3 linked regions of the Homo sapiens genome follow. The protein of the gene in region 1 interacts with the protein of each later gene in a pairwise test. Each region holds a gene or a part of one and is shown on either strand. Other genes may lie near its edges.

The links. Proteins that work in one complex are often made in the same cells at the same time.
Region 2: the proteins of SMC3 (region 1) and PDS5B interact in binary tests that used the Homo sapiens proteins (3 or more experiments, as listed by UniProt).
Region 3: the proteins of SMC3 (region 1) and PDS5A interact in binary tests that used the Homo sapiens proteins (3 or more experiments, as listed by UniProt).

Annotation. Positions count from the first base shown.
Region 1 is NC_000010.11:110,598,497-110,607,232, forward strand, and holds the end of SMC3 (structural maintenance of chromosomes protein 3), read left to right. Parts: intron 1-1,157; coding exon 1,158-1,316; intron 1,317-1,942; coding exon 1,943-2,050; intron 2,051-2,525; coding exon 2,526-2,634; intron 2,635-3,140; coding exon 3,141-3,388; intron 3,389-3,469; coding exon 3,470-3,682; intron 3,683-3,977; coding exon 3,978-4,169; intron 4,170-4,328; coding exon 4,329-4,506; intron 4,507-4,687; coding exon 4,688-4,794; intron 4,795-5,734; coding exon 5,735-5,806; 3' UTR 5,807-7,552; downstream 7,553-8,736. UniProt on the Homo sapiens protein: Central component of cohesin, a complex required for chromosome cohesion during the cell cycle. The cohesin complex may form a large proteinaceous ring within which sister chromatids can be trapped.
Region 2 is NC_000013.11:32,588,571-32,597,306, forward strand, and holds part of PDS5B (sister chromatid cohesion protein PDS5 homolog B), read left to right. Parts: intron 1-8,736. UniProt on the Homo sapiens protein: Regulator of sister chromatid cohesion in mitosis which may stabilize cohesin complex association with chromatin. May couple sister chromatid cohesion during mitosis to DNA replication.
Region 3 is NC_000004.12:39,967,057-39,975,792, reverse strand, and holds part of PDS5A (sister chromatid cohesion protein PDS5 homolog A), read left to right. Parts: intron 1-1,453; exon of another isoform or gene 1,454-1,658; intron 1,659-1,962; exon of another isoform or gene 1,963-2,350; intron 2,351-8,736. UniProt on the Homo sapiens protein: Probable regulator of sister chromatid cohesion in mitosis which may stabilize cohesin complex association with chromatin. May couple sister chromatid cohesion during mitosis to DNA replication.

The DNA of each region.
Region 1 (8,736 bases):
CCTGGGTTCAAGCGATTTTCCTGTCTCAGCCTCCTGAGTAGCTGGGACTACAGACATACGCCACCACATCCGGCTAATTTTGTGTTTTTAGTAGACATGGGGTTTCACCATGTTGTCCAGGCTTGTCTCAAACTCCTGACCTCAGATGATCCACCTGCCTTGCCCTCCCGAAGTGCTGGGATTACAAGTGTGAGCCACTGTGCCCAGGCTAGACCCATACTTTTGGATATCTACATCTATTTTACCATTCTTAAACCCATGGATACCCAAAGTCTCCTATTGTTGGCACGTTCAAACTTTCCACCTTCATTGAACAAATAGGCATTTGAAGCTGTGACATAAGAGTACTGTCTGATGGTCAGTTTTTGTCAGTAACCATTTTTATCTGAAGCACAATGGAATTAGTTGAATATTTGATTCCGTTTTGTCCAGATTGTATTAAAATTAGAAAGCAAACTTATAAGTGATAGTGTGTTATTGGTCTCATAAACTTGACAGTTTTGACAAATCTTTTACTTAGTATAATACTAAAACTACAAAGAGCTTAAAAAAAAAAAAAAAGATGTGCCTACAGTTGTACCATCCCAACCATATTCTGACAACTTTTTATTTTTTGAGGGGGATGGAGTCTCGCCCTATCGCCCAGGCTGGAGTGCAATGGCGTGATCTCGGCTTACTGCAACCTCCACTTCCTGGGTTCAAGCAATTCTCCTGCCTCGGCCTCCAGAGTAGCTGGGATTGCAGGCGTGTGCCTCCACACCCAGCTAATTTTTGTATTTTCAGTATAGACGGGTTTCACCATGTTGGCCAGGCTCGTCTCGAACTCCTGACCTCGTGATCCACCCACCTTGGCCTCCCAAAGTGCTGGGGTTACAGGCGTGAGCCACTGCGCCCGGCAACTTTTTGTTCTTATAATATGCCTGAAGATTTTTGTATAGTTTAATCATGGAATATGATCTGCCCCACCCTGCCCCACCTATACTATTACATCATATTTTTCTTGTTGCTAGAGTCCTAATTACCAAATTAATAGGCACCTAATATTTGAGTTGATATGTCTATATATTTAGCTCAATCAAATATAGATTGTTTTAAAATTTTCACTATAAGTAATACAGTGGCTAATACCTTACTAATAAATGGATAATGTCATATAGCAACGTAGCTTACAGAGTTTGGAGGCAAGCTTGCATGCTATGGAGTCTACCAGAGAGTCATTGAAAGCAGAACTGGGAACTGATTTGCTTTCTCAACTGAGTTTGGAAGATCAGAAGAGAGTAGATGCACTGAATGATGAGATTCGTCAACTTCAGCAGGTAAGTAGACAGCTGACTGGAAAAAGAATTCGTTAGTAATTGGCTATTGTGAAAAGGGCCTTTCTTGCTAACTAGGGCAATATGAAAGAAAAGAACTGAGAAAATATTAAAATGAGGCTTGGACTTTTAATATACATAGGAGTAAATAAGATTTTGTTTTTCTAAACCAATCTAGCTAGGTTAGGATTATACAAGAAATTTTCATTTCCTTAAAATTTAGTTAATTAGCATTACTTATTAGTTGTAAGTATTGCTATGAGTTTGAGCTTGTTAGCCTTACCATATTTATCTTACTGCCTTTACATATTTAATGTTTTGATCAAGCATTTTAATTGATTTTTAAAACTGCATAGATGTAAACTACCAACACCGATTCTAAAAAATGAAAAGCATTTAAAGAAACTGTTTTTGACAGCATGCGTTATAAAAAGGGCCAGCCACAAAAATTTAACATTATGAATTGATAAGAGAAAAATGAAGAAAGTATAGGGCTTTTTTGAAGAATATAACATATTAAACTTCATTTCAGCTCACATGAGCACAAGTACTAGAGAGGACAGCAAATGAGCACCATTCCTGTGTGTGAAATGTACATGCTTATATAGACAACTTTTTCTTAATTCTAGGAAAACAGACAGTTGCTAAATGAAAGAATTAAATTAGAAGGTATTATTACTCGAGTAGAGACTTATCTCAATGAGAATCTGAGAAAACGCTTGGACCAAGTAGAACAGGTGTGTATGTGTTTTTTTTTTTTTTTTTAAGGGCTCCTTGGTGGCCATGACCTATTGCAAGTGGTTATATCAGAGGCTCTGATTGAAAGCATGGGCTTTGGGGACAGAAAGCTTAGTGTCTTGTGGGCCTTGGGTTGGAATTCTGCCACCTAGTGTGTGATTTTGGACAAGTCACTATTTCTAAGCCTCAGTTTCTTGTGTGAATTAAGCATTATCATACTTGTTTTATATAATTGCTATCCTGACACATTCTAAGTACTTTGTTAATATTTTTTCAGTGGTGGTTAGATGCTTAGAAATTTTCTAGTAATTGTGTCTTTTTTTTCTTCCCTTTAATGGATACTTCTAAGTATTTGTAATTATATGATGTATTTATATTTTTTTGTTTTCTTGAATGTTTATTCAGACAATAGCCATAGAAAATGTTGGCAGTCATAACATTTGAAACTAATGGAATTTGTATTTTTTGTTACAGGAACTTAATGAGCTGAGAGAGACAGAAGGGGGTACTGTTCTCACAGCCACAACATCAGAACTTGAAGCCATCAATAAAAGAGTAAAAGACACTATGGCACGATCAGAAGGTGAATTTTTATGTAGTAAAATTTTGTTTATATGCATGTTTTATAAAATTGTTTACTACAGAATGAAATGTCCAAATAGGCAGAAGCATATGCTAATGATTTTTTGTTTTCCATTATAAACAATGTATAGCAAATGGAATTTAGGAAGTTGACTATAAATAGTAACTTTTGTTTTACTGAAATGTTTATGACAATTTTGAGACCATAAATGATTCATTTTGTTGATAAAATATGAAATACCTGACGAAAGTTTCTCATCACTTAGTTGTTAGAAAATAACTATAGTTTATAAGCATTAACATTGAATAATGAAAATTATATATTTGAGTGACTCATATATACTTCTAATTTTGTACTGACTTAACATGGTTCATAAATTTTCACAGAAAATTTTAAACACAAAACCTAAAACCTATTTTGGTAGGTTTGATCATAAAAATCTATACTCAACATATAACACTGGCTTTATAGGTATTATAGCCTAATTTTGTTTCCCCCCATCTTAGATTTGGACAATTCCATTGATAAAACAGAAGCTGGAATTAAGGAGCTTCAGAAGAGTATGGAGCGCTGGAAAAATATGGAAAAAGAACATATGGATGCTATAAATCATGATACTAAAGAACTGGAAAAGATGACAAATCGGCAAGGCATGCTATTGAAGAAGAAAGAAGAGTGTATGAAGAAAATTCGAGAACTTGGATCACTTCCCCAGGAAGCATTTGAAAAGTACCAGACACTGAGCCTCAAACAGGTTGGTTTTAAATTTGAAGTCTTGTTACAAATTGCTCAGTATATAAATTTATTTATATGAATACATATTTTCTCTTTATAGTTGTTTCGAAAACTTGAGCAGTGCAACACAGAATTAAAGAAGTACAGCCATGTTAACAAAAAGGCTTTGGATCAGTTTGTAAATTTCTCCGAGCAGAAAGAAAAGTTAATAAAGCGTCAAGAAGAGTTAGATAGGGGTTACAAATCAATCATGGAACTGATGAATGTACTTGAACTTCGGAAATATGAAGCTATTCAGTTAACTTTCAAACAGGTATGTTTCGCTTTGTAGTTAAAACATACACACAGAGGACAAAAGCTTCCAGCTCTTTTCAGTTTGTAAAGATTTTAAAGCTGTTTTCCTCATTACCAGGTGAATCTAATACATGTGAACAAACCTAGCATATAGGTTTACAGTAACTTGAATGTTTTACACAGCCCTTAGAAGGATCTAGTCTGTTATCCTTGTTCTTAAGATTAAAAAATAATTGGTTGCTTTTAAATATTTTACTTAAGTGTTATATATAATTCTAAGCAAAATTTATATTTCAATCTGCTTTTGTTTTAAGGTATCTAAGAACTTCAGTGAAGTATTCCAGAAGTTAGTACCTGGTGGCAAAGCTACTTTGGTGATGAAGAAAGGAGATGTGGAGGGCAGTCAGTCTCAAGATGAAGGAGAAGGGAGTGGTGAGAGTGAGAGGGGTTCTGGCTCACAAAGCAGTGTCCCATCAGTTGACCAGTTTACTGGAGTTGGAATTAGGGTAAAATACCTTTATATTCCATTTTCCTCAGAGCATTACCATAATAGAATTTATAGTATCTTTTGCAAATCTGATTGGTGCATTATATGCAAGTTACTTTTGAAAGATGGTGGTGATTCTGCCCTTTAGGATATTAACTCATAATATGTTTATTTTTAGGTGTCATTTACAGGAAAACAAGGTGAAATGAGAGAAATGCAACAGCTTTCAGGTGGACAGAAATCCTTGGTAGCCCTTGCTCTGATTTTTGCCATTCAGAAATGTGACCCGGCTCCATTTTACTTGTTTGATGAAATTGACCAGGCTCTGGATGCTCAGCACAGAAAGGCTGTGTCAGGTACAGTTTCAGTACAGTTTTGGTTTTGTATTTAACAATAAGCTGGTAATATTTGCTGATGTATATATGAAAAAATCAAACTCAGGCAGTTTTGAATTTTAGTAAGAGTAAAGATAGTTGCTTTTTAAATTTTCAGATCTGCTGAAAAGAAATTTGTTAAAGCACAATTTTCTTTTTACAGATATGATTATGGAACTTGCTGTACATGCTCAGTTTATTACAACTACTTTTAGGCCTGAACTGCTTGAGTCAGCTGACAAATTCTATGGTGTAAAGTTCAGAAATAAGGTAATTTTATTTTACATTGAGTTTAAGTTTGTATTTATTCAATTATATTTGTTGAATTCTGATTTTATGTTACTTAAATAGTGAAAGAAAACTTAGAAAGTCTTTGCTTATCTGATGTCTTTGTAAAGAAAGAACTTTTCCTTCAAATAACTATGAAGTTTAGCAGTATTTTATGGCGTTGCATTGGTTTTATTTTCATTGGCATTAATAAACAATATCTTTCTGTCCAGTCTATTCAATGCTTCTGTAATGCACAGTCTTTAACAATTATATATGTTCATTTGTATAGACTGCATAGCTCTTCCTGGGTGTCTTCCCAACCTTAAAATTCTTGATGAAATAGCAAAGTAATAGAAAGTGAACAAAAAGGTAGTTTAGATGTTTAGGCATGATATTTATTTCTTCAGAGCATTAAAATACATATTTTTTAAATCTATGCATTGAACAAACACCACTGTAAATAAAGGTTTTATAAGTCAGTGCTTCAGAATTATTTTCCTTCATATGTAAAATATAGGTGATAGGCCGGGCGCAATGGCTCATGCCTGTAATCCCAGCACTTTGGGAGGCCAAGGCAGGTAGATAACCAGGTCAGGAGTTTGAGACCAACGTGGCCAGTATGGTGAAACCCCCGTCTCTACTAAAAATACAAAAATTAGCTGGGCATGCTGGCGTGCACCTGTCGTCCCAGCTACTTGGGAGTCTGAGGCAGAATAATTGCTTGAACCTGGGAGGCGGAGGTAGCAGTGAGCCAAGATGGTGCCACTGCACTCCAGCCTGGGCAACAGAGCAAGACTCCATCTCAAAAAAAAAAAAAAAAAAAAAAACTAAAAATTAAAAAATGTAGTTAAATGTAGTTGATAGGCTGTATATATTTACCCTATACAATGTAAACACTGATGTAATTAACAGATTTTTGTTTTTAACATTTATTCTTCAGGTTAGTCATATTGATGTGATCACAGCAGAGATGGCCAAAGACTTTGTAGAAGATGATACCACACATGGTTAATTGGAAAATACTACCTACTGGTTTGGGAGATGTATATAGTAATATGATTCTCATACCCAGGAACTGTAAATTTAAACCTAAATATTTGGCCAATAGTTTTCAGACTTAAAGCATCATAGTCCTTTTATATTTGTCTTTGTATTTTATAAGATACTCTGTAATGTCATGTTTGTACTGATAGTTTAAGAATTTAATTTCCTGTACAACTTTTTGTAAAATGTTCTGCTCCTATTTTAAATGTTTTGAAACATGCTAAATATTCTTTCCTAATTATTTTATCACTTATACTACCTTTTTTATAGCTTCAATTAAATAATCGGTTTTATGACTAATATAGTGTTTTATGTGGCTTTTCATTTGTCATAGTCTCTTCCAGTGAGAACACTAATCAGATTGGATGTAAGGCCTCATTTTAACTTAATCACCTCTTTAAAAGACCTGTCTCCAAATACAGTTAAATTTGAGGTATTGAGGGTTAGGACTTCAACATGTGAGTTTGGGAAGGGAAGCACAAAATCAGCCCCTACCATGGTATATTTATCATTGATACATTACTATCAACTAAGCTCAAGATTTTATTCAGATTTGACTAGTTTTTCCACTAAGGCCCTTTTTCTTTTCTAGGATCCCACAGAGGATACATTACATTTACTTACATCTCCTCTAGTCTGTGACAATTTCTCTGTCATTGTTTATCATATCTTGACAATTTTGAATAATATTCACATATTTTGTAGAATGTCCCTCAAATTAGGTTTGTCTAATATTTTTCTCATGGTTAGATTGGAGCTAATACCACAGAAGCGAAGTATTCTCATTACCTCATATAATAGTACATATTATTAACATGTTTTATCACTGATGTTTACCTTGATCACCTACCCAACATTGTACTTGCCAGGTTTCTTTGTTGTGAAGTTACATTTTTTTCCCTTTCCATACTACTCTTTTCTTTGAAAGTAGGTCTTTAAGCACTGGGGGTCTCCTGTGACCCTGGAAAACTACCTCAATAGTCCTCGTAGCTTTTTGTAGATTCTTTGAGATTTTCTACATAGACAGTCATGTCATTTGCAAGAAAGAGGCAGTTTTATTTCTTCCTTTTCAAATATTTACCTTTAATTTCTTTTTCTTGATTTCCCCTGGCCTGAGTTTATACTGGTTATCTGCAGGAGAATTTGTTAGGAGCTACTCTTCCATCATTGGAAACCAGAAATACCTAAAGAGATACTTTTAAAATAAAGAAATAGTAATGGGACTTTAAATTGAATTTAAAAATGTGAGTTTACTTTGGGTTTTCATTTTGACTGGCTGAATCTTTAAATGTTCGGTGTATTATTTATACTTTGTAGCTTTGCTATAACATAACTGATCTATAATAGAGAATTTGGTATATGTTCTATCTATGACTACATTCAAAGGGTTACGTAACTATAATATCTTTCTAATATTTCTACCATTTTTCTTACACATTTACCCAAGAATTTTTCTCAAACAACTACCTAAGAATATTCATCATGAATGCTTGGTGTATAGTTTACGATTTGTAGAGTTGCTCTGATATGACCAACCCCTTATAATACAGAATTTGGTGTAAGGTAAGTTCCAGGATTCAATTCAAGGGATGTTACAAACATAACATCATTCTAGAACTTCTTAATATTGTTCTTAAGCATTTCCCCAAGGATATTAGTATAATGAAATGCCAGTAAATTTATAACAATAAAGCATCTAAATAATGAAACAAAATTTTTGTAAAAGCCTATATTCTTTGCGATATCTTAGTCATGAATTAATTCTAATGAGACTGAATAGAAAAATGTGACAATCCTGAGCATGCTTAACCCAGAAACTTAGAGGAAGGACAGACATTTACCCAAGGAGTTAGCCAGTGATTCATAAGAAAATCTATGCTTCTCTTTGGCTGGATAGTCCTTTCCTCAGAGTAGTACTGATTCTTCCACTTTGAGATTTTGTTAATACTGTTACAAATACATTACATTCACCATAGTGGAATTGAAGAACATATATTTTAAGAGATGGTGGGGGGGGTCTCATCCCATCACCCACGCTGGAGTGCGGTGGCAGGATCACAGCTCACTGCAACCTTGAACTCCTGGGCTCAGGTGATCTTCTGCTTTGGCCTGCCAATATTAATATTTTGGGGCATTTCCTTCAAATCTTCATAAAAAGTTTTGTGGTTTATGTTTATTCTAGGTGTATAATTTTATATCTTAGATTTTTAATTTAGTAATAATATAAAATATTCCTGTTTTAATGCTTTGGAAACAAGATTTTAATAGTCATATACTATTCTGTCAAGTAGAAGTAGCATAATTTACTTAAATATCCCACTGGAGGCTTAGATCGTTTTCTTTTGGCTAAAGTACCAAAAATGAATTAAAAAACAGATCAACATTTTTATACATAAAACTCCCAACATTTAGGATTATTTTCCCAGCGTAGATTCCTAGAAGTCAGAGTGTGAATATTTGTAAGGATTTTTGTATACTCTTTATGCTCTTTTTGAAAAAAATGTAAAATATGAAATGGTTAGTATGTAGGTTAAGGATTTGTCTACTCAAAATTAGTGAAATAGTAATTTTAGAAAATGATGTAATTTATAGAAATAATTTTACTGTGAATAATATAATCAGTAGAAAAGGGAGAAATAGAAAGGGAGGATTTCTTTTTTAAGAGTAAGCAATAGCCGGTCGGGCACGGTGGTTCACGCCTGTAATCCCAGCACTTTGGGAGGCCAAGGTGGGTGGATCACAAGGTCAGGAGATCGAGACCATCCTGGCTAACCTGGTGAAATCCCGTCTCCACTAAAAATACAAAAGATTCTCCGGGCGTGGTGGTGGGCGTCTGTAGTCCCAGCTACTGTGGAGGCTGAGGCAGGAGAATGGCGGTAGCCCGGGAGGCAGAGCTTG
Region 2 (8,736 bases), on another chromosome or scaffold:
TTGTTTCGGTTAAGGCTGATTTTCCCTATATTAACTTTTCTTTTACAGCAGCTTTTGTTACTCTTGTAGGCTTTGTTCTCTCGTGTTATGTCTCTCCCCTCTCCCCATATTAGAGAGAGATGTGGTGATGATAGTGATTGTTGTTAGGAGATGTTTGTATTAAGCTTATTTGTAATAAGATTCTACCGAGTTGGCTGTTGGATGAAAGTTGTTTAAATTGTTCTGCAGCTTTGTTTAACGAAGTAACATTTTGAGCAGTAGGCTTTATCAATAATTTGTTAGGCCTAAGATAAAGTGATACTCTGTATTAGGCAGGGCTTGCCCTGGAGAGGGGTGCAATGGTAGAAAATACCCAAAACTTTGTGGGGAAGGAATATTTCGGGAAGCTGTATTCTTTCTGCTTTACCTCTTGGGAAATTTAGAGACTGCCTTAGAACTAACAGGAGTGCTCAGTATGATTTGGCATACGGACTCTTGAATGACATGGACTGTATATAACGTATATTGGAAAAGAATACATTTGTGTTTCCTCTGTTAGTGTTAAAGAGCAACAAGAAAACTTAAGGATGATCTCCAACTCACTTATACATGAGAAATTAGGTTCAGATTTTAATTTCATTGATTTATCTGAGGTCACAGTCATATTCATGTGGTGGAACTGGGGCAGCCCTTAAGATATCCTGGAAGCTTAGAAGTTTCCCCATTGTCTTTTTTTGTTCTATTCAGGATTTAGCAATATTTATTAATAAAAATTCAGGGTAGTACATTACCCTCCATCCCCTTCTCACCTTTTTATTCATTTAACCAAGAATAAAGTTTTGTGGTTAGCCGTCTGTTTCAGCGTCTGGTTTTTAATAATTTCTGTTTAGGATTCAGTCCATTTAGGTTGTCTCAGAAGATAGCCTCTTGTAGGTCTCTGTCTCCGGGAGCCGTCTTTCTTTATGTAACATTACTTGACATGGCATTTATTTATTCTTTGTGAAACTTCTAAGAGTAATTTGGGAAAGTTAGTATTGACCTTTGTTTTGTTACAAGATATAGTGCGTGCATGAGTATGCGTGTATTTTTTCATTTTTAAACTCAGTTTGCTACACAAGTCATCTGTCACTTCTAGTTACAATAGGCGTTTTACTTGGTTTTCGTATTCCTGTTCGGGAATGTTAAAGATTCCAAAAATACTTAGTTTAAAAACAAGCCCAGTAGTTTCTCTGAGAGTGTATTTACTTTTTAAGAAGCTGCCAAATGGTTCGCAATTCTGACTCCTTGGAGAGTAGAGGTAAGAAGCCCTTTCCTCACACTGTTCTGTTACAACCACTTGATTCTAACCATTTCCCCCATTACTTGAAAAAGGTTTTAGAATCCTTTCTCATTAATTAGTTCAGAATTAAGAATAAATTTGCTGTGTTGAGACTGTAATTGTTTTAGCTGGCATGAGTGATCGTGCACAGTGAAAAAATCATGATAATAAAACTTAGATGAATAAAATTTATTTGTTCAAATCTTAAAGCCTTTGAGGTTTAAAAAGTATAATCATTGTGTTCTAATAATTAGACATTAATAATAAGTAGTAATTAAAAATACTTGGTTTAGCTATGTAAAACATAAAAGCTAACAGGCTTGGGGGAAAGACTGATTAAAGTAAGAAACTATTTTGAGGCATCTTTTTAAGGACTAAAAGTATTCCACTAGCCTGCCATTCTCTTTTTTGACGGATAATTACCTGATTCAATTAAAATGAACAGGTACAAAACTTCCATATACATACAGTACCAGGGATGATGCACTAAACAGGACTGAAGACACCCTGTCCTATAGAAGTGCAGAGTAGTGGTTGGCCATCCACAGCAAGGTGATGAGAGCTGAGACAGACCAGAGAGTAGGATCTCTGCTGTTACTTAGTTCCGAAGGAGCAGGCCCTCCTTCCTTTTCAGTGGCAGTTGAGGTTGCTCTTTTTATGTGGGAGAGTGAAATTAGCCAAGATTAGATCCCATAAGGAGAAGGAGGGGCTCTTATAACCAAGACCATTGTCTTTCTCTAGAAGAGGATGGTTAGGGACCTGAAAAGAAATGAGATTTTGTGTTTCCTTAGGTAAGATAGGATTCTTTCTCCTCAGAGGTGATTTTAGGGAAGTAATTGAAGATATTTTAAAGGAAAGCTCCATATCTCCAAAATATTATTTAGTAGCTGAAGTTCTACCAGGTAGTTTCAGTTAGCTTTCAGATATGGGATGCTTTGGGTTGGGTGTGGGGGTGAGAGTTGCAGGGGCAAGTTGCAGGGGCAAGATGCTGGGCAAATTGCAGGGGTGAGAGTTGCAGGCCTTAAGTACTCTATTAGGGGAATAGAGTACCTAAAGAATTGTGTATTTTAAGTTAAAAGTTATACAGGTATATGGTAAAAAAAAAAAAAATTTAATGATAGAGTAAAAAATGTTACTTTTTTCCTCCCCCCACAGGTAATCCACTGTTAACAGTTTCTTAAAAGTTTACTTTAAAAAAAATTGTACAAAGAGTATTGTTATACTGTTGTACTGTAATTTACTATTTTATTTATTTATTTTATTATTATTATTATTTTTTGAGATGGAGTCTCGCTCCGTTGCCCAGACTGGAGTGCAGTGGGGCAATCTTGGCTCACCACAACCTCCACCTCCTGGGTTCAAGTGATTCTCCTTCCTCAGCCTCCTGAGTAACTGGGACTACAGGCGTGTGCCACCATGCCCAGATAATTTTTGTATTTTTAGTAGAGACTGTGTTGGCCAGGCTGGTCTCAAACTCCTGACCTCGTGATCCGCCCGCCTCGGCCTCCCAAAGTGCTGAGATTACAGGCATGAGCCACCACGTCCGGCCTACTGTTTTATTTTTTAACTGTGATTTACTTTTTTCCTTAGTTAAGTCACAAGCTCTTTTCATACTGGCACATACAGATCAACATAATTAAGAAATAATAAGAATATTTTATTATAACATAATTTATTTTTTCTGACTCCTGTTGAGTAGTACTACGTTGTAATAGTTTACATTGACCAGCAGCGTATGAGAATGCCTGTGACATGTATTTACCAACATTGGACTTTAAAAAACTATATTGCCAATTTGATATATGAAATTTGTCTTGTTTTGGGTTTGTATTTCTTTGTGAGTGAAGGTAAACATTTGTTTATATGCTTATTAGGGGGAGGCCATTTGCAACATATTCTTTAATCAAGTGGTTTAATGCTAGTTTAATTTACTTGCTGCCCCCACCACCTACCTTCACCCTTACCTAAGAGCTAAGATGGTCTGAGAGAAGTGGGACTTTAAGAAGAGGAAAAATATTTTGGGGCTCATGGCACCTTGACGGGGAGCAATGCTCTGAATGGAGAGGCTACAGCACCTGGCTTTGAACAACTCTGGGTCAGTATGAGAGTATTGAAAGCCCTTGACTTGGTGTAAACATAAGGTAGAAGAGAAGCTGAAGCGACACACAGGAAGGGAGATTTGAGAGTCAGGGCAAATAAATTTTGTATAGAGTCAACCCCACCTTGTACCATCTGCTTATCCTGTCTCATCACTTCTCCCTCCCACCTTCAACTATCATTTCATTTTTATTCATACTGTCATTTGGTTTTCTCCTCTTTTCCTGTCAGGCATGGCAGCCTGGACCTGGGTATTTCAAATGCCCCAGAGATGAGGTGTGCTTAGTTTTTGGTTTTCTTTTTTTTTGAGACGGAGTTTCGCACTTGTTGCACAGGCTGGAATGCAGTGGTGTGATCTCGGCTCACTGCAGCCTCGGCCTTGGCAGGTTCAGGCGATTCTCCTGCCTCAGCCTTCTGAGTAGCTGGGACTACAGGTGCACGCCACCACGTCTGGCTAATTTTTTGCATTTTTAGTAGAGACAGGGTTTCACCATGCTGGCCAGGCTGGTCTCGAACTCCTGGCCTCAGGTGATCTGCCCGCCTTGGCCTCTCAAAGTGCTGGAATTACAGGCGTGAGCCACTGCGCCCTGGCCTAAGTAGAAGCTCTTGAGCACTTTTTCCCCCTCTGTCTCTTTGGTACTATTCCTTTCAGCTTTCGACTCTCCTAGCCTTCTGGGGTAACATAAATAGGTCAAGTCTTTATAGCTGTAGTTGGAATTCGGAAGGTCACTGGCATTTAAGACTTGAACATAGGAGCATATATCACAATATATGCTCCTATGATATATCAGGATGTGATGCTTGATAAGTGGGGTCCCTTTCTAAGGAATGCAGAAGAGCATGGTGGTTAATTTAAGCATATAGACTTAAGAGTCAAGACAGCTTGGGTTTTTATCTCCTCTAGCTAAACAAGCAATTACCTAATCTTACTAAATCTCAACTTCTTAATCTGAACAGTGGGACTAACAGCAGAAACCTCATTTTTAAAAGCAGCTTTATTGAGATACAACTCACATACCATAATCCATTGAAAATACACAATTCATTATTTTTTAGGATACTCATAGGTTTGTGCAGCCATCATCACAGTCTGATTTTGGAACATTTTTGTCTTCTGTGAAAAACGCCAAACCAAATGTAAATGAGTAGAGCCATTACGGAGAATATTATGGGGGCTCCTCAAGAGGTGAGAAGGGATAGAGAGAGGTTGGCTAAAGGCTACAAAATTTAGCTAGATAGGAAGAATAAGTTCTAGTGTTGTACTGGGTGACTACAGCTGACCCTTGAACAGCGAAGGGGTTAGGGGCACCAACCCCTGTGCAGTTGAAACTCCACATATAACTTTTATTTCTCTGAACTTTGGTAGTAATAGCCTACTGTTGATTGAAAGCCTTACTGATAACATAAACAGTCAGTTAACACATGGAGTGCAGTGGCACGATCTCGGCTCACTGCAACCTCTGCCTCATGGGTTCAAGCGACTCTCATGTCTCAGCCTCTGGAGTAGCTGGGATTACAGGCACCTGCCACCACGCCCGGCTAATTTTTGTATTTTTGGTGGAGACGGGGTTTCGCCATGTTGGCCAGACTGGTCTTCAACTACTGACCTCAGGTGATCCGCCCGCCTTGGCCTCCCAAAGTGCTGGGATTACAGGTGTGAGCCACTACGCCTGGCCTCCATTCTGTATTCTTAAAGCAAGCTAGAGAGAAGACAATGTTATTAAGAAAATTATAAGGAAGGAAAATATATTTGCTATTCATTAAGTGGAAGTGGATCATCGTAAAGGTCGTCAGCCTTCTTGTCTTCCTGTTGAATAGGTTGAGGAGAAGGAGGAAAAGGAAGGATTAGTCTTGTTGTCTCGAGGGTGGCAAGGTGGAAGAGAGAGAGGAGGTGGAAGAGGAGGCAGGAGAGGGAGGCGCACTGTAACTTTTACTGAAAAAAATCCATGTATAAATGAACCTGCACAGTTCAAACCTGTGTTGTTGTTACATATTTTCAACTAGCTAGAAGAGAGGCTTTTGAATGTTCCCAACACAAATAAATGATAAATGTTTGAAGTGATGGATATGTTAATTACCCCGATTTGATCATTACACATTGTATATGTTGAAGTATCACCATGTAACCCACAAACATGTACAATTATATGCTGGTTAAAAAGCATAAAAATAAAACCCCCGAACCTACTAGCTGTCACTTCCCATCACCCCTTATTTCTTTAGTGTTTGGGATAAGCCAGGTCAAATGCTTAGGTTGGTGCCAAAATGTAAGTACACAGTAAAAAAGCAGTTATAACTTTTTGCAGGGAGACTGTGTGGCAAAGTCCATTTACATAGTTTTAGAGAATGCAAAAATGGGATAATTACTGAATGGATGTTTGCATACTTCCATACTGTGCAAGGATGTGGTGCACAGTGCTGGCTAGAGATACAAAGATGAAAGATACTCAATCAAGAGATGTATATTCAAGTGGGAGGAAAGAGGCTGGTATAAAAATACTTATAAAACAAGCCAGAGTATAGTTAGTGCCTTCAGGAAGGGCTCAATACAATATTTGGAATTGGAAACTTGACAAATGGAGATTAGTCATGTTACTCTGAGAGTACAGGAACTATGAAAAAATTCTTGAAGGAGCAACCATTTTGACCAAGTCTTAGATGATGGAAAGATGGGATTTCTGGCTTTAATGAAGAGTAAAGAATGCAATGCTTTTTGAAGTCTTAAACTATTTGTTTTTGTTTTTGTACCCTCATGCTGCTGCCAGATGATTGCCTCTGGAAGCTATTCCTACACCTTTTTTTGATGTTTCTAATCTGTTATGAACCTGGGGGACTAAATTAGTAAATAATCTTTTAGTGAGAGCCTGATGTCTGTATGAAAAGGATACCAATATATGGTCTTACGCTGTCGTTTTGATATAGTTGCTTTTTTAGTTTATTCTGTGGGTCTTGGTTTCATCCCTGTTAATTGGTCTTACAGAATAAGTAATTCCTAGATAAATTAGCCTCATATACGTGTCTTCTTCTCCAAGGCTTCTAGTAACAACTATGTCCCCTGACCATTCTCCTGAATTTCCCATCTTCTTTTTCTAGTGCACTGTTGGACACAACACCTCCAGTACAATATATCCCAAACTGATCTACCTTCTCTTACTCTTTAACATCTTTCCAACTTGTACCTTGATTAATAACAGATTTCTTTCTTAAAAAAAAAAATGTTGTAGGGGATGACATGACTAGGTTTATCATCATGCTAGAAACCTGGGAGTCATCTTGACTTCTCCATCTCCCCTAACTCTCACATTACATAAGTTACCAAATCCTGTTGATTCTGATATAGTATTTTTAAAGGTTATTATTATTTTAAATTATATGCACATATATACTCCAAAAGTAAGACGGCAAAAAGGAAAAAGATACACAATAAAAAACCTCTCATTCCTTCCCCATTTGCCTCATTCCTAGACTCCCACAAAAGTTTATATATGTTAATGTTATGTTATATCCTTCTGGGGGTTTCAAAACACAACTATGTAGAAGGAACCACATACTTAAACAAATAGTAACACATAGCATGGGATTTCCACAATAGAGGTATACACAGAGTCTGTGAGAAGGAGAAAGAACCACCATGCATTCCCTAAAAGAAGAGTTAGGTATTGGAAAAACCTTCCTATTGGGTCCTGAATAGAAGATGAAAAGGAGAACTTTGGACACGTGAATAAACCAAACTGAGCTGTTAATAAGCAGAGAACTATCAATTAGACACAGAGACAAAGGGTCTAACAATAGGATGCTAGAACATTTCATTGTTTGGGGGGTTCAAAGGACCTATAAGGAAATAAAAGAAAATGCTGGCAGCCACACACAGTGGCTTACATCTGTAATTCCAGCACTTTAGGAGGCCGAGGTGGGCTTCTTGAGGCCATGGACTTGCAGTTACTTTGGGATCTAGCAAAGATTTCAGCGCATTGTAGATGATGAATATTTATTGAATATGTGTAATAATGTATATATACTAAACATATATGTGACAACCCAAGACAAGGAAAATTAATACAATATTAAGCTCACAGATTTATTTAGAAATATAAAATTTTATTTTTATTGAGGTGTAATTAAAATACAGTAAAATGTGCAGATCTTAGCTGTTCACTTTGATGAGGTGTGATGATTATACACATGTAACCAATAACCACAAGAAGATGTAGAGCATTTTTATTACCCCACAACGTTTCCTTGTTGCTCTCTCCATTCAATTTCTTTTGCCTCCAAACACTCTTTGATTTTTAAATGTAGATTAGTTTTGTTCTATCTTCATACAGTGTGTGCTCTTGTGTATCTGGCTTCTTTTGCTTAACATATTTTGAGATTCATCCATGGGGTTGGATGTATCAGTTTTTATTGCTAAGTAATATTTCATTGGGGGAATATTTCACAGTTTATCTTCTGTTGATGGACATTTGGGTAGAATCCAGTTTTTGACTATTATGAATAAGGCCTATACAGATCTTTTTGCAAGTGTGTGTTTTCATTTCTCTTGAGTAAATACCTAGGAATGGAATTGCTGGTTTGTAGGCATATGTGTGTTTAACTTTACAGGAAACTAGTTTTTCAAAGTGGTTTTCCTTTTTATATTCCCACCTGAATATATGAATGTTCTAGTTGTTTTACATCCTCACCAACACTTGGTTAGTCAATCTTTTTAATTTTAGCTATTCTAGTGGGTGTGGAAGGGTATCTCATTGTGGTTTTATTTTGGATTTCCTTGATATCTAGTGATGTTGAGCACCTTTTTGCATGGTTGTTGACAGTATATTTTCTTTCGTAGGATGCCTCTTCAAGCTTTCTGCCCATTAAAAAATGGATTATCTTTTTACTATTGATATGCAGGAATTCTTAATGTACTCACGATACAAATTCTATGTCAGATCAGAGTATTAAGAGTATTTTCTCCTGTTTTGTAGCTTGCCTTATCTTTTTTTTAACAGTATTTTGATGAGTGGAAGTTTTAAAATTTGATGAAGTCCAGTCAATCAACTTTTTGTTTTATGGATTGTGCTTTGAGTTCTTTTTATTTTTTATTTTTTTGAGACAGCGTCTCACTCTCCCAGGCTAGAGTTTAGTGGCGCCATCATAGCTCACTGCAGCCTGGAACTTTTGGGCTCAAGCCACCCTCCTATCTCAGCCTCCTGAGTAGCTGGGTCTACAGATACGTGCCACCATGGCTGGCTCATTTTTTTTTTTTTTTGTATTTTTTGTAGAGATGGGGTTCGCCATGTTGCCCAGGCTGGTGTTGAACTCCTAGGCTCAAGTGATCTTCCTGCCTCAGCCTCCCAAAG
Region 3 (8,736 bases), on another chromosome or scaffold:
TTGTGGCCAGAATCTTAACAAATAAGTAATATTCTTCTTGTAGGAACAGCTTGAAGCAGTGGTTCTGAGTCAGGGCAACTTTGACCTCCAGGAGATGTTTGGCAATGCTGGAGACATTTTGGTTGTCACAATTGGTGCTAGATTGGAGTAGGGGAAGACCAGAGGCAGTGAGTCCGGCTAGGAAACTGTAAACAGTAGTCTAGGTGAAAGACGTTGAAATCTTCAGGTAGGGCTATGGCATTGGTAATAGTGACTAGGAAATGATTTAACAACTTTTCAGAGTTAGAATCAATCAGAATTGGTGGGAGGTGAGGGAAGCAACATTGTTGACAATGTTTCCACCTTGGGCCACTTGGCCAAATGTATTTTAGGGAATGAGCTTGGCCTCTTGCTCTTGGAGCCCAGTAAATGTACCTAATGTTGCATTTTAATGAGTACAGTATTTAAAATATTCCTGTGGTTTAGTTTTCAGACTCTTAATTTGGTTCTGCAATTTGTTGCCTTTTTGGAAGGAATAAGACAACAGTTCCTTTCATTAAAACAAATCTGTGTGCGGCGGCGGGATCTCAGCTCACTGCAACCTCCACTTCCCAGGTTCAAGCTATTCTGCCTCAGCCTCCCAAGTAGCTGGGACTACCAGCGTGTGCCACCACACCCGGCTAAATTTTTTTTTTTTTTTTTTTTTTGAGACGGAGTCTTGCTCTGTCACCTAGGCTGGAGTGCAGTGGCGCGTCTCGGCCCACTGCAACCTCCACCTCCCGGGTTCAAGCAATTCTGCCTCAGCCTCTCTAGTAGCTGGGATTACAGGTGCCTGCCACCACGCCCAGCTAATTTTTGTATTTTTAGTAGAGATGGGATTTCACTATGTTGGTCACTTTGGTCTCGATCTCCTGACTTCGAATGATCTGCCTGCATCGGCCTCCCAATATGCTGCGATTACAGGTGTGAGCCACTGCTCCCAGCCCCTTTCATTAAAACAAATCTTGGGCCTGGTGTGGTGGCTCCAGCCTGTAATCCCAGCACTTCGGGAGGCCGAGGCAGGCAAATCACCCGAGGTCTGGAGTTCTACTAAAAATACAAAATTAGCTGGGCGTGGTGGCGCATACCTGTAATCCTAGCTACTGGGAGGCTGAGGCAGGAGAATCGCTTGAACCCGGGAGGCGGAAGTTTTGATGAGCGGAGATCGCGCCATTGCACTCCAGCCTGGGCAACAGGAGTGAAACTTCATCTCAAAAAAGTAAAATAAAATAAATAAAGCAAATATTGATACTAAAGATTATACATGAATTGAGCTGCTTGATTGATGCTTCTAAAAGTTACACTGTTTTGGGAGTGAGAAATTATGAAATATAAAACTTAAACAATTGATGGATCGTTAATATTTATTGTTTTCAAATTAAGAATATTGAAACCTTGAATTCTAATGTTGGATAATTTGGTTAAAAAATGGAAAGTTGATGTGTTAGCAACCGCTCTGTTGACATGACTCATGGAACCTGTGAAGAAGCTGGTCTCATAGTATTAAGTGGTGGTATAGGAGCAGCTTGGGGATAGCACCTGGCATATTGGAATGGATGAGGTCTGGCACCCTGAGCAGTCCAGCGAGGACTTGGTCTCAGTAGAGCAGTTTGGCTAGGAGGAGAGTATGCAGCACGGTTTTTATTTATTTTTGAGACAGAGTCTCGCTCTGTCGCCCAGGCTGGAGTGGGTGCGATCTCGGCTCACTGTAAGCTCCGCCTCCCGGGTTCACGCCATTCTCCTGCCTCAGCCTCCCGAGTAGCTGGGACCACGGGCGCCCGCCATCATGCCCGGCTAATTTTTTGTATTTTTTTAGTAGAGACGGGTTTCACCGTGTTAGCCAGGATGGTCTCGATCTCCTGACCTCGTGATCTGCCCCTCTTGGCCTCCCAAAGTGCTGGGATTACAGGCGTGAGCCACCGCGCCCGGTCTTGCAGCACGGTTCTGAGTCTGTGGAATAGCTGCCATGAAGTAACCTGAAGGAGGTGCTGGCTGGTAGGGGTTGATTACATGGTTGGGCACAGCTCGTACACTTGCCATTCTCTGCATATGCTGGTTAGTGAAGTGAGCCTGGCACTCTTCTTTGCGCTGAGCTAAAGCTACATACGATGGTTTTGTGGCCACAGTTCTACCGTTCATTTCTGTAACTGCTTTAGTGGCTTCTTCCGGGAAGGAGAAACATACGAAACCAAACCCTTTGCTGTGACCACCCTCCATCATAGCCTTTGCACTAGTGATTGTACCAAATGGAGAAAACTCTTTCTGGAGACGTTCATCATCAATACTATCATCAAGATTTTTCACGTAAATATTAACACCCTGGTATCTGCTGGCTGCAGCTACTCCTGCTGTCCACACCGTTCCACAGTATAAATATGCTGCGGGAGTTCGCAATCCTCAGCAACATCTTAATGCACAGCCACAAGTTACAATGCAACAGCCTGCTGTTCATGTACAAGGTCAGGAACCTTTGACTGCTTCCATGTTGGCATCTGCCCCTCAAGAGCAAAAGCAAATGTTCATATGCTCGAGAGTCCAGAGTCACTCTGTTCTAAGGTTCATGAAGCTAGCTATATTACAAGCCCACCAAGCTAAAGAGGCTACCCAGAAAGCAGTTAACAGTGCCATTGGTGTTCCTGCTGTTTAAAATTGATCAGAGACCACGAAAAGAAACTTGTGCTTCACCAAAGAAAAATATCTAAACATCGAAAAACTTAAATATGGAAAAAAAAATTGCAAAATATAAAATAAATTTAAAAAGGAAAGGAAACTTTGAACATTATGTACCGAGCAAATGCCAGGTCTAGCAAACATAATATTAGTCCTAGATTACTTATTGATTTAAAAACAAACAACAAAAAAAACCCCACAAAAAATAATAAAATATAAAGACAAATTAATGTTTTATAGATCCTGGGAAAAATAATTTTCAGCAAAGTACAAAAATTTAAAGCATTCCTTGTAATCTTTACTGTGGAATAGCTCAAAATATCAGTTCTGTTTTAAGTAACAGAATTGATAACTGAGCAAGGAAGCGTAATTTGGATTATAAAATTCTTTTTTTAATAAAAAATTCCTTAAACAGTGAAAAAAAAAAAAAGGAAAGTTGTGGTTGGGTACAGGGGCTCATGCCTGTAATCCCAGCATTTTGAGGGCTGAGGCAGGAGGATCATTTGAGCCCAGGAGGTTCAGACCTGGGCAACATAGACCCTGTCTCAATTTTATTTTTATTTTTTATTTATTTATTTATTTTTTGAGACGGAGTCTCGCCCTGTCGCCCAGGCTGGAATGCAGTGGTGCAATCTTGGCTCACTGCAAACTCCGCCTCCCGGGTTCAAGCGATTCTCCTGCCCCAGCCTCCCAAGTAGCTGGGATTAGAGGTGCGTGCCACTATGCCCAGCTAATTTTTGTATTTTTAGTAGAGACGGAGTTTCACTATGTTGGTCAGGCTGGTCTCGAACTCTTGACCTCGTGATCCGCCCACCTCGGCCTCCCAAAGTGCTGGGATTACAGGCGTGAGCCACCGCGCCCAGCCAACCGTGTCTCAATATTATTTTTTTAAGGTGTGTTGGGAAAGTTATGACTACTTATGTACATTTTCTGTTTGAAAATCGATTATCAGAAGTACTGTTAACTATAAATGGACATACAATCCAGTGGAGAATGAGCATCGAGTTTGATTATCCATTTGTTATGAGTTCTTTTGGAAGTTAAAATCGACGTTCATATCAACCAACTTCAATGTCCTACTGCCAAAATGTTTTCTGAAAAATTCTTTTGATTTTGTATTTCTTCTGCCTTCCTTTCTATTTTGACTTTGTACTTAATTAGGGATCCTTCTTTAAAGTATTATGTCTCATTGGAAATGTAGATTTTTAACAATACTTAAGTATTTTTGAAATTTTGTTTTTTTATTAGAATCTTAGTTATTGATAATTTTATAAATTCAGGAGTTTATTATTATTATAACATAGCAACAGTGTTGAAATGCTGTACAAACACAAAGAGAGCTTAAGCCCGGACGCAGGGGCTCATGCTTGTAATCCTAGCCCTTTGGGAGGCCAAGGCAGGTGGATCTCTTGAGCTCAGGAGTTCGAGACCAGCCTGGCCAACATGGTGAAACCCCATCTCTACTAAAAATACAAAAATTAGCCAGGTGTGGTGGCACACCTCTGTAATCTCAGCTACTCCTGTGGCTGAGGCATGAGAATCACTTAAACCCAGGAGGCAGAGGTTGCAGTGAGGCATTATGCCACTGCACTATAGCCTGGGTGACAGCAGAGTGAGACTCTGTCTCATTAAAAAAGACCTTAAAGGCAGGCCCGGTGCGGTGGCTCACGCCTGTAATCTCAGCACTTTGGGAGGCCGAGGCGGGTGGATCATGAGGTCAGGAGATCGAGACCATCCTGGCTAACACAGGTGAAATCCCATCTCTACTAAAAATACAAAAAAATTATCCAGGCGTGGTGGCGGGGCCTGTAGTCCCAGCTACTTGGAAGGCTGAGGCAGAATTGCATGAACCCAGGAGGCGGAGCTTGCAGTAAGCCAAGATCCCACCACTGCACTCCAGCCTGGGTGACAAAGCGCGACTCTGTCTCGAAAACAAACAAACAAAACAAAACAAAAAACATCTTAAAGGCAATTACAAAGGAATTCAGCGGTGTTTGGTCCTGTTCTCGTCAGTTTTCAAGAATGGAACAAGGCTGGGTGTGGTGGCTCATGCCTGTGTAATCCCAGCACTTCAGGAGGTCAAGGTGGGAGGAACACTTGAGCCCAGGAATTTGAGATAGGCCTGGGCAACATGACAAAAACCTATCTCTACAAAAAATGCAAATATGGTCGTAGCTACTCAGGAGGGTGAGGTGGGAGGATCACTCAAGCCCAGGAAGGTCAGGGCTGCAGTGAACCGTGATCCTACCACTGCACTCCAGCCTGGGTGACCGAGTGAGACCTTGTCTTAAAAAAAAAAAAAAAAAAAAAAAAAGGAACAAGCGGTTTTACAGTGGAACCATAATCTTAGAATTAGAAGGATCTTAAAGGAAATTCTGGAACCTCCTCTTACTTCACAGATAATGAAAGTTAGGCCAAAGTATTCAAGTAACCTTTACCAAAATCAGTCACAGGGCAGTTTAGTGGCAGAGGGCAGGGGCAATAACGCCATATTTACTTTGGTTGTTATATAGTTGCTTTCTTCTAAGGAATCTAAACTAAGTAGAACTAAAAAGTTGTAACTTTTATCATGTAGTTGAAGACATTACAGTGAAATGTGAAGAGAATGAGAGTGAGTTTGGTCTTTTGTAGGGAGAAAAAGGACAGCTTTTTTTTTTTTTTTAAGCATTTGAGAGAAACTATTGTGAAGCTTTGAAGCTTCGTTGACAATAATTCTTAGAGTATGTCTTTGAAAGAGCTAAGATATGTTTTCCTATACTAGAGCTTTTCATTCCTGTTTCCAGGGCATTACTTTACCTATTTTTGTTATGTCAGGCCACAGTGGTCTTCGGTTGGTTTCCTGAACATGCCATGTTTATTTCTGTCTAGACAGGTTCCTTACATTAAATAGCCCATGTGTTCATTTGTCATTCATTTGTTACTTCTTAAGGGAAGCCTTTAAGGTTCTACATTACAGGCTGGGCGCGGTGGCTCACGCCTGTAATCCCAGCACTTTGGGAGGCCAAGGTGGGTGGATCACGAGGTCAAGAGTTCGAGACCAGTCTGACCAACATAGTGAAACCCTTTTTCTTGGAGCCGAGATCACATCACTGCATTCCAGCCTGGGCAACAGGGCGAGACTCTGTCTCAAAAAAAAAAAAAAAAGATTCTACATTACATACCCTTCAACTCCTTCATATTACATTTATCCATACATTTATTTGGTTTGTCTCTTTAGCTTCTCTGTAAACCTTATTAATACAGATACCGTGTCTGTTTTTCATTCCTCTCAGTGCCAAGCTTAATGCCTGGCACATAATTGGGTGCTGAACAAATACTTGTTAAGTGAATGAATGAATATTTTGTATTAATACTGAATTAGAGAAATATTTTTATTTTTGAAAGTAAAGGATAATTTGAAAAAATTTCAAATTGCAGCTAAGGACTTTCCTTTTTTTTGAGACCAAGTTTTGCTCTTGTTGCCCAGGCTGGAGTGCAATGGCCTGATCTCGGCTCACTGCAACCTCTGCTTCCTGGGTTCAAGTGATTATCCTGCCTCAGCCTCCTGAATAGCTGGGATTATAGGCATCCACCACCACGCCTGGCTAACTTTGTATTTTTAGTAGACACGGGGTTTTACCATGTTGGTCAGGCTGGTCTCGAACTGGTGACCTCAGGTAATCCACCCACCTCGACCTCCCAAAGTGCTGGGATTAGGGCGTGAGCCACTCTGCCTGGCTAGGACTTTTCAAACTAAGGAGTTTGTGTCTTAGAGATGGTAACATAGGTACAGTACTTAGAATTTTGGAGTCAACAGGTAGTTCAGAGGTTATGTATTTCTGTTCTAATTTTTCAGGTGAAGAAACTGACCATTTGATAGGTTGTGAACAACGCTAGTCACCTAAAGCTGAAAAGTGTCATTAACTTCTGCTACTTAGATAATAGAAGTTACAATTATATATTAATTGACAAATATTAAAACCATACTAAAGTTAGCTATGTGGAAGGATGGCCAATAGTTTAGTATCATTGTTACATTAAGAATCACAAATAGCTGGCACGGTGGCTTACGCCTGTAATCCCAGCACTTTGGGATGCCTAGGCGGGCGGATCACCTGAGGTCAGGAGTTCAAGACCAGCCTGACCAACATGGAGAAACCCCGTTTCTACTAAAAATATAAAATTAGTTGGGTGTGGTGGCACATGCCTGTAATCCCAGCTACTCAGGAGGCTGGGGCAGTAGAATCCCTTGAACCTGGGAGGCAGAGGTTGCAGTGAGCCGAGATCACGCCACTGCACTCCAGCCTGGGGGACAGGGCAAGACTCTGTCACGAGAAAAAAAAAAAGTAAAAGCATACACTGAGCAAGTGATTTTTTAAAAAATTCATATTACAGGCCGGGCACAGTGGCTCATGCATGTAATCCCAGCACTTTGGAAGGCCGAGGTGGGTGAATCACCTGAGGTCGGGAGTTCGAGACCAGCCTGACCAACGTGGAGAAACCCTGTCTCTACTAAAAATATAAAATTAGCCGGGTGTGGTGGCGCATGCCTGTAATCTCAGCTACTCAGGAGGCTGAGGCAGGAGAATCGCTTGAACCCAGGAGGCGGAGGTTGTGGTGAGCCGACATGGTGCCATTGCACTCCAGCCTGGGCAACAACAGTGAAACTCTGTCTCAAAAAAAAAAAAAAAATTAATATTATAATTAAGTAATCTAAGCACCATTGCACTCCAGCCTGGGCAACAAGAGCGAAACTCCATCTCAAAAAAAAAAAAAAAGAATCACAAATAGCCATCCTCCCATATAGTTGTGGGTTCTGAAACTAATACAGGGTTCACATCTAATAAGTGACATTTAAAATACACTTATAGGTCTGGTGTCCTCTGGCTTATGCCTGTATTTCCAGCACTTTGGGAGGCTGAAACGGGCAGATCACTTGAGCTCAGGAGTTTGAGACCAGCTTGGGCAATATGGCAAAACCTCATTTACAATAAAAATTAAAAAAATAAAATACACTTATAAATAGCTGTGCAAATTCCATAAAGGGCTTAATGGAATTAAGTTAGTTATGTAGTATATCCTATATCATGGATTACTACAGAGCTATTTACTATACACATACTTTGTTTCTTTCTTTCTTGCTACTTTGGAGGTAAGAGGGCCTTGATAATTATTGGTGTTTTTTTTGTTTGTTTGTTTGTTTGTTTTTAAGATGGAGTCTCTCGGTCTGTTGCCAGGTTGGAGTGCAGTGGCGCAATCTCAGCTCAGCCTCCTGAGTAGCTGGGACTACAGGCTTCTGCCACCACACCCAGCTAATTTTTGTATTTTTAGTTAGAGACGGGGTTTCACCATGTTGGCCAGGCTGGTCTCGAACTCCTGACCTCATAATCTGCCTGCCTTGGCCTCCCACAGTTCTGGGATTACAGGAGAGAGCCACTGTGCCTGGCCTTTTTATTTTTATTTTATTTATTTATTTTTTGAGATGGAGTCTTGCTCTGTCGCCCAGGCTGGAGTGCAGTGGCGCGATCTTGGCTCACTGCAACTTCCGCCTCCTGAGTTCAAGCAATTCGCCTGCCTCAGCCTCCTGAGTAGCTGGGGTCACAGGCGTGCACCACCAGGCTTGGCTAATATTTTGTATTTTTAATAGAGACGGGGTTTCACCATGTTGGTCAGGCTTGTCTCGAACCCCTGACCTCGTGATCCACCCACCTCGGCTTCCGAAAGTGTTGGGATTACAGGCATAAGCCACCACGCCAGGCATTTCTTGATTTTTAAACGGAGGGATGGATAGAGTGAAATTTGTTTCTTTTCTTTTCTTTTTGAGATGGAATCTCACTCTGTTGCCCAGGCTAGAGTACAGTGGCAAGCTCTTGGCTCACTGCAACCTCTGTCTCCCAGGTTCAAGCAATTCTCCTGCTTCAGCCTCCTGAGTAGTTGGGATTACAGGTGCGTGCCACCACACCTAGCTAACTTTTTATATTTTGGTGGAAATGGAGTTTCATCTTGTTGGCCAGGCTGGTCTCGAGCTCCTGACCTCAAGTGATCCACCCACCTCGGCCTCCCAAAGCG